Homo sapiens: one gene and its partner. The protein of the gene in region 2 interacts with the protein of the main gene of each other region in a pairwise test. Each region holds a gene or a part of one and is shown on either strand. Other genes may lie near its edges. The genes, in order: CLIC6 and ZNF439.

Region 1 (3,819 bases), on a different chromosome or scaffold from region 2:
GCTAATTTTTTGTATTTTTAGTAGATAGGGAGTTTCACCATGTTAGCCAGGATGGTCTCGATCTCCTGACTTCGTGACCTGCCCGCCTTGGCCTCCCAAAGTGCTGGGATTACAGGCGTGAGCCGCCATGCCTGGCCCGGGGACTCACATTTCTAAAAAGCTCCCCAGACAGTTTGTATGCCTACTAACATTGGAGAACCACGGGTCTGGCAGGTCTTTAAGCCCTAATAATACATGACTCATGGCTCTTAAATCATGTTCAGCTACTATATGGGAAGGCAGGGCAACAAATATGGCAGAGACTCAGCCAAAAGCTGCCAGCTGCTTCCTGGATGTTGAGGGTCAATGTTTTTTTAAAATAAATAAATAATTAATAACCTAATTGTTTTTAGAGATGGGGTCTCACTCTGTCACCCAGGCCAGAGTGCAGTGCCACCTCCTTAACTTGCTGCAGCCTCAGGTTCCTGGGCTCAAGTGATCCTCCAGCTTCAGCCTCCCATGTGGCTGGGACTACAGGCACACACCACCATGCCCAGCTAATTTTTTTTTTTTATTTTTTGTATAGATGGGGTCTCGCTATGTTGCCCTGGCTGGTCTTGAACTCCTGGCCTCAAGCAATCCTCCCACCTCAGCCTCCCAAATCACTGGGATTACAGGCATGAGCCACTGCACCTGGCCAAGGGTCACTGTTAAAAGCTAATAGAACACTCCTCTGTCATCCCTAGAAGGGGCCATGTGGAGCCCTACAATCACCAACAGTAGACTGCGTTCACATTTGAATAGCCCCAGATTCTACGAGCCTCATCTCTAATTCTCAATTGCTAACACCAGGTATAATCTACGAAATTCCTCAGGCTGCTTTCACATAACCTGTCTTTAGGCTGTGTGAGTAAGGCTGAGAGAGAAGCAGAAGGTGGGGCCATGTTCCCAGGCACTTTCTGAGAACACCCGAAGCCCATCTTCTGTGTGTGTGAAAGCTGGGGCTTGGCTGCCCCGAACAGAACTAGTGTTTTTAATCCAAGTCTCCACATTTCAGACTGTTTAAATGTCTGGCCCAAACACAAGTAAAAACAAAATAAAACAAAGCCCCGTTCGTGTACTCGGCACACGTGTCGGGAGGGAAGATGAACCTTAATAATATGGAGCTTGGGTAAGAGGTTGCAGTCAGCCAGCGTCAGCTCGTCCCCATCCAGAAACTTCCTTCCAGAAACAGTGACATCCTCGGTGCTGTAGGCATCTATTTCATCAGGCAGAGGGCTATTTAAGTAATTATCCAGCTTCCTCAGGGCCTTCAGCAGGTTCTTTTCATGAACTAAAACAGAAGGGCAAGAAATCACAAAGAGAGGTTTGCAAGTGCATGTCACTTTTCACCAGCTGTGATGGAGTTTGCTTCCCTTCCTCGCTGAGATGTGGCCAGCAAGCAATGGGTGCTGGGAAGGCAGCAGGTGGATGTAGAATATCTGAATAAAGGGCTCACTCCTCCCTGGAAAATCACACTGCTGTCTACACAATATTGCTCCTTCTAGAAGTGATTTATTTATTCAAAAATACTTATGGAAAGCCTGTGGGGAGACGTGGACTGGCAGAAACATCATTGAACATGATTCCCATGGTGTGTCCGGAACACCTGGGTGATGACTATTTTCCCTAAAAATGTTGTTTTCTGAGTTCCCAGCCTCAAAAGAAGCATTCATCTCTTGAAGCCCACGTGCAGATTCAAAGTTGGAGGCACTTTTTCTGTAGCTCCAGACTCACTTCTCTACCCACTGGGAAATAGATGGGAATACCCCAGGAGCGTATGGGCCGCCATGCTAAGACTCAAGTCTGTGTTGAAACAAAACAGGAGGATGGGAGGTACTCACTCTCATTTGCATCCTTCTTCGTGTTTTTTATAAACGCTGAGAATTTGGCAAACACGTCATTTCCTGCGGAATTAGATTCGGGATGTTGGGTCCCCAGCTTGGGATACCTTGAAAAGTTCAAAATTGGAGGATCACAGACAAGTGATGTTTTAGTGAAGATAATACTATACAATGGAGAAAAACAGCTTTCTCTGGGCATAAAAATGAAAAGCTTTCCTTCAACGTTTTCCTGACCCTTTTCCTCTCAAAGGTTGGGAAGTAACAACATCTAGGAGAATGGCACTGGACGGAGAGGTTTGGATTGTTGCTGTTTCCTGGCAGTGGCCAGTTCTGGGACACAGGACCCCACCTGGCCTTGCTGGTCTCAGGTGCTTCCCTAGTAAAACGAAGGGGATGGAGTAGAAATAGCTCCCCCGAGGTCCAAAAATCCATGATACTTCTTCCTAACACATACTCCATAGCTTCCAGCAGGGTGTCTAGGATACAGCCAACCACCCACCCTGGACCCATCTCCTCCCACTTCCTGCCATCAAACTGTGATTGCCAAGCTGCAGGTGCAGCACAATGAAACCCAGGTCCCCGAACTCTAATCTGGTTACACCAGGGTTATGATTAAGGAAGTGAGCACCGTGGGCTGCAGAAAACCACACACACACACACTGCCCAGAGCTTTAGAACTGACTACTAGTGGGGGAAAGTGACAATCAAGTTATGAACACTGGTTTTCTGAGGCCTACCTCGGGGGAGCTAATTTCTCCTCTAAGAACTCCTCGATCTTATTCACATCCGTCTTGACTTCACCATCAAAAGTCATGAAAGGAGGGTTTGTTCCGGGAGCCAGGTTCTGCAGGTCTGCGGGTTTCCTAGGTGGGAGGAAACAGCAGTGTTTATGGGCCACCGTGAGAATCTGGACTCATTTCCAGGGCTTAGCCGCGTCCTCACCAGTTTAAGAGAAGCAACTCTTGAGAACTGCAAAGTAGATGGTGGGTTTATGAAAATGTCTTGCTGGCGATGAAAGTAAAGGCATTCATTAACAAATGATGGGCTTGTTGAGGTGCCCCTTTGTGAATACGGAGCACAAAGGGGCATATCAACAAACAGAGGTGAAAAAGTTAACTCTCCCCAGTGTTATCAGCCAGGGATGGTGCTCAGACAGGCTTGGGAGAGTCACAGCTGACCAGCAACTGGAGAAGCAGGTTCTTCACGGCACCCCCAACTCCTCCTCCTTCCTGACTCCAGCCCAGCCGACCCTGTCATGACTGCTTGGCCCACATGTGGGCTTCAGTTCAGACTCCGACTGAGGATGGACGTGCCCATGCAGCACCGTTGGCCTCAGGTGTGTGTGTGTGTGTGTGTGTGTGTGTGTGTGCAGAGAACTAGGTACAGTTATTTCAGTAAGGCAGACGCCTTGTCTTACCTTTTCAGGTCCACTGTGGTCACATTAAATATAACGCCTTTCAGCCAGAGAATCATAAAGAGACGCTGAGAAAACGGGCAATTTCCGATACTCTCACCATCATAACCAGCCTACAAGTGGAGAAGGAGATTTCTATCTGAGCCAGTCTCACAATTATAAGTGCCAACACCACAACATGCACATGCAAAATCATTGCAGGTTGATAAGAACGGTCAGGATGCTGCGAATATCCTCCTGAGGCCATTTTACCAGCCTCAATGTGGAGTTGGCGGTGGATGTAGGGGTTAGGGGAGAGAACACCACACACGCACGCACATGCACATGTATGCACTGCACTGAGCATTTTCTTTCTTCCTTCCCCACCACCTCACCACTGCCTGCCACACTGGGCCTCTGAGCAGCAGCTCACTGATGGAAGGAGCAGCAATGGGAACTCCCTTTATCACCAATGTGAAAAAGAAAGACACGCCCTTTCCTTCCCTCTATCTCTCGATCCTCTCCAAGGATCAACTATTCTTAGCAGCTTTGGTATAATAGCTA
Region 2 (4,580 bases):
TATTATGAGTGAAAGAAAAATTAGGGTTGAGGCTGGGCGCAGTGGCTCATGTCTGTAAATCCAGCACTTTGAGAGGCCGAGGCAGGAGGATCACAAGGTCCAGAGTTCGAGACCAGCCTGGCCAATATGGTGAAACCCCGTCTCTACTAAATAATACACATAATTAGCTGGGTGAAGTGGTGCATGCCTGTAGTCCCAGCTACTCAAAAGGCTGAAGAAGGAGAATTGTTCAAACCTGGGAAGCAGAGATTGCAGTGAGCCAAGATCACACCACTGCACTCCAGCCTGGGCAACAGAGTGAGGCTCTTTCTAAAAAAAAAAAAAAAAAAAAAAGAAAAAGAAAAAGCAAAAGGAAAAAAAAAGAAAAATTACAGTTGAAATAAAAATTAAAGTACATAAGCATGAAAAGTAAAGTTTACATGAGGAAAAATATGCCTGGCATTTAATCCAGGTAATGCTGATTCACAATATCCAAATAATAACAATGTAACATTATAAGCTTGATCTAATACATGACACCAATGGATATTTTATTATAGCTTCTTAATTATTTAAAAAGAATAACATTTGTTAGTATACAGTTATTATAAACAGTTAATTGTTTACATTCATTATTTGTATTCAAAGAATCCTAGCCGATCTGAAGGCTTTCCCATACTGCTTACATTCATAGAGTTTCTGCCAAGTGTGAGTGCTTCCATGCATTTGAAGTCTTGAGGCTGATCTGACGGCTTTCCCACATTGCTTACATTGATACGGTTTCTCCCCAGTGTGAGTCCTTTCATGATATTGAAAAGAACTGGAAGAAGTGAAAGCTTTTGCCACATTGCTTACATTCATAGGGTTTCCTTCTGGTGTGTCTTTACATGTCTATGAAAGCAATTAAGCAAGCTGAATGCTTTCCCACAATCCTTACATTCATACGGATTCTCTCTCGTATGAGTCCTTTCATGTATATGCAAGGAAGAAAAATAATTGAATGCTTGTTTGCATTCCTTACATTCATAGGTTTCTCTCCAGTGTGTGTTTTGCATGTATTCAAACGATCTTGGCAGATATGAATGCTTTCCCACAATGCTTACATTCTTAGGGCGCCTCTCCTCTGTGCAACTTTCATGTATTTGAAAAGAAGAGAAATTATGGAACGCTTTTCCACATTTCTTACATTCATAGGGTTTCTCTCCAGTGTGTGTCCTTTCATAAATTGAAAGGTTCTTGACAGATCTGAAGACTTTCCCACATTGCTTACACTCATAGAGTTTTTCTCCACTGTGAGTCCTTTTAGATATCGAAAGGAACTGGAACAATTAAGGCTTTACCACATTGCTTGCATTTATAGGGTTTCTCTCCAGTGTGAATTTTTTCATGTGTTTGAAATAACTTGGCAGAATAAAAGTGTTTCCCATATATCTTATATTTATAAGGTCTTTCTCCAGAGTGCATTCTTATGTGTTTGTGTCCTTTCATGAAATCGAAAGTTCTGGACATATCTGAAGGCTTTCCCACATTTCTTACATTCATAGGGTTTCTCTCCAGTGTGAATCCTACGATGGATTCGAAGTTGTGAGGCAGATCTGAAAGCTTTCCCACATTCCTTACATTGATACGGTTTCTCTCCAGTGTGAGTCCTACCATGCAATTGAAGATTTGGGGCAGATCTGAAGGCTTTCCCACATTGCTTACACTCATAGGGTTTCTCTCCAGTGTGAGTCCTTTCATGATATCGAAAGGAACCGGAACGAGTGAAGGCTTTACCACATTGCTTGCATTTATACGGTTTCTCTCCACTGTGAGTTTTTTCATGTCTTTGAAATGACTTGGCAGAATAAAAGCCTTTCCCACATGTCTTACATTCATAAGGTCTTTCTCCAGAGTGCATTCTTATGTGTGTTTGAAAACTTGTAAGAGAGGATAATGCTTTCCCACACTGCTTACATTCATAAAGTTTTTTCCTAGAGTGGGTCCTTTCATGTCTACGAACATAACGGGGACACATGAATGCTTTTCCACATTCCTTACATTGATAAGCCTTCTCTCCCATGTGACTCCTTTCATGTCTGTGACAGGATCTGGGACTATGGAATGCTTTCCCACATTCCTGACATTCATAAGGCTTTTCTCCAATGTGAGTTCTTTCATGTATTCGATGGGTAGCAGAATAACTAAAAGATTTACCACATTGTTTACATTCATACGGTTTCTCTCCAGTGTGAGTTCTTTCATGGATAAGATATAAACTGAGACAATGGAATGCTTTCCCACAAAACTTACATTTATAAGGTCCATCCCCACTGTGCACTACCATGTGTCTTTGAATGCTTGAATGGTAAATAATGTTTTTTCCACATTCTTTACAAGCATAGGGTTTCTTTCCAGTGTGATCCCTTTCTTGTGTTCTCAAGGAGGGGTGATATCTGAAGGCTTTTTTAGGTTGTTGACTCTTCCATGGCTTTGGTCCATATTCCTGACATTCACATGCCTTGTGTCCAGTGTCACCTCTGATGTTCATATTAGAAGATGAGTTACCTAGGCCAACTTCACACACAAAGCTGTCACATGATTTTACTTCAGGAGAAGCTTTCTTCTTCTGGAAGTTCAGCCTGTCATCTGGAACTGGGGTAAAAGTTTCTCCACAATGACTGTCTTCTTTAATTTCATTGACTTTCTCTTCTGTGACACTCCTGTCAAAAATGAGAAACAAATTATGAAGAGTTTGTTTATAAGTAATTTTATATTAATCAGCAAGTATTGTACTTGCATTTTTAACACTCTCCATCAAAGTGTAGGCTTTCTGCCCTGTCTGAATTGTTTGAAGGTGACTGGACAACACATTCTACAAGGTGACCTAGCCATACCTATTATTTAAAAAAATGTTTATATGGGGCTTCTTAATACTCTTCCCATGTAAACTATTTTAAAATACTAAATACTCTGTGTCATTTTTCTTTTGTTTCAGGGTCTTGTCCTGTTGCCCACCCTGGAGTGCAGTGGTATCATCATAGCTTACCACAGCCTTTAACTCCTGGGGGCTCAAGTGATCCTCATGTCCCTCATGTCTCAGCCTCCTGAGTAGCTGGGACTACGGATGCATACCACAATGCCCAGCTAATTTTTTGCTGTTGTTGATATGTGGTCTTGTTATGTTGCGCAGGCTGTTGTTGAACTGCTGGCCTCAAGCTATCCTCCTATCTCCATGTCTCAAAGGACTGGGATTACAGGAGTGAGCCCTCAGCCTTGATCACATTTAAATATATATTTTTAGATAAAATATTGTATGAATAAATGAACTTGATCCTGGACTTAGTTCTTTGTTTTACTTATTTTTAACATAGTCTCATATTCTAAGATCGTGTAGAGAGACACTGCTTTCTCTTATAAGTGCAAATTACCTGAAGTTTCTCCTGGGGTTTTGGTACTCATATTCAATGTTCTGGTCTTTCCACTTTTTTCCTAAAATACAAACACAGAAAAATAATCCTGAGGCAGTATAAAATTGTGAAAAAATTATTAGACCTATGCCCATGATTTACAGCAGCCATGCCTCATTTATTCATCAAAGTATTTCCTGTCTGTGTTCCAAATCACTCAACAGCATTGGTGAGCTAGAAACATTGGTAAACTAATGCACTGAGGGAAGGAATATTGTCATCCTTACCTATAGAGGTCAGGTTCCAGAAAGTTTCCAGCATCACTTCCCTGTAGAGATTCTTCTGGGAAATATCCAGCAAAGCCCACTCCTCCTGGGTGAAGTTCACAGCCACATCCTTAAAAGCCACTGGGTCCTGAAACATCTCACATGTGTAGAGGAGGATGGGTGAGAGTGACAGCATTGGGGGCCTAGACTCTATTCCCAAGAAGTTCTCAGGATGCCGTGGACTCCAAACATTTATTCCCTGCTTTGGTCATCAGATCCCTTTCTCTCTGTCTATACTTACTTTCTTCCATAAAGCAATTTTTTTTTTTATTTTTTTGAGACAGAATTTCACTCTTATTGCCCAGGCTGGAGTACAATGGTGCAATCTCGGCTCACTGCCGGGGTTCAAGTGCTTCTTCTGCCTCAGCCTCCCGAGTAGCTGGGATTACAGGCATGCACCAGCATACCCGGCTAATTTTGTATTTTTAGTAGAGACAGGGTTTCTCCATGTTGGTCAGGCTGGTCTCGAACTCCCAACCTCAGGTGATCCACCTGCCTCAGAGTCACAAAGTGCTAGGATTACAGGCATGAGCCACCACACCCAGACAGCAATTTTTTTTTTTTTTTTTTTTTTTTTTTTGTGATAGTGTATCGCTCTGTCAGCTGCTTGGGCTGTCCCTAATGTCTCCTTGGACTGTGGGTCTGTAGCACCTGTCATAACAGAGTACTATGAATTAATATGCAGAAAAAAGTTAACATTAGCAGTCCTGAAGCTGTGTATCCTTGAAAATGCCTGTTCCCAAAGTGTAATCTTTGATGACATTGTTAGAGAAGGCAGATATCTAGCCAAGAGCAGGAAGGGTAGCCCCTGGGAAATCCCACAACCCCAGGGACCACCCAAAACAGGCATGCTAGATATAAGCAGAGAGGAGGGGAGACACCTAAG

Evidence for each region.
Region 1: the proteins of ZNF439 (region 2) and CLIC6 interact in a two-hybrid assay, tested with the Homo sapiens proteins (one large-scale study listed by BioGRID and IntAct).

What each region holds. Positions count from the first base shown.
Region 1 is NC_000021.9:34,706,850-34,710,668, reverse strand, and holds part of CLIC6 (chloride intracellular channel protein 6), read right to left. Parts: intron 3,390-3,819; coding exon 3,280-3,389; intron 2,726-3,279; coding exon 2,600-2,725; intron 1,970-2,599; coding exon 1,863-1,969; intron 1,313-1,862; coding exon 1,131-1,312; intron 1-1,130. UniProt on the Homo sapiens protein: In the soluble state, catalyzes glutaredoxin-like thiol disulfide exchange reactions with reduced glutathione as electron donor. Can insert into membranes and form voltage-dependent chloride-selective channels.
Region 2 is NC_000019.10:11,865,407-11,869,986, reverse strand, and holds the end of ZNF439 (zinc finger protein 439), read right to left. Parts: intron 4,346-4,580; exon of another isoform or gene 3,831-4,345; coding exon of another isoform or gene 3,783-3,830; coding exon 3,656-3,782; intron 3,451-3,655; coding exon 3,390-3,450; intron 2,682-3,389; coding exon 1,418-2,681; 3' UTR 501-1,417; downstream 1-500. UniProt on the Homo sapiens protein: May be involved in transcriptional regulation.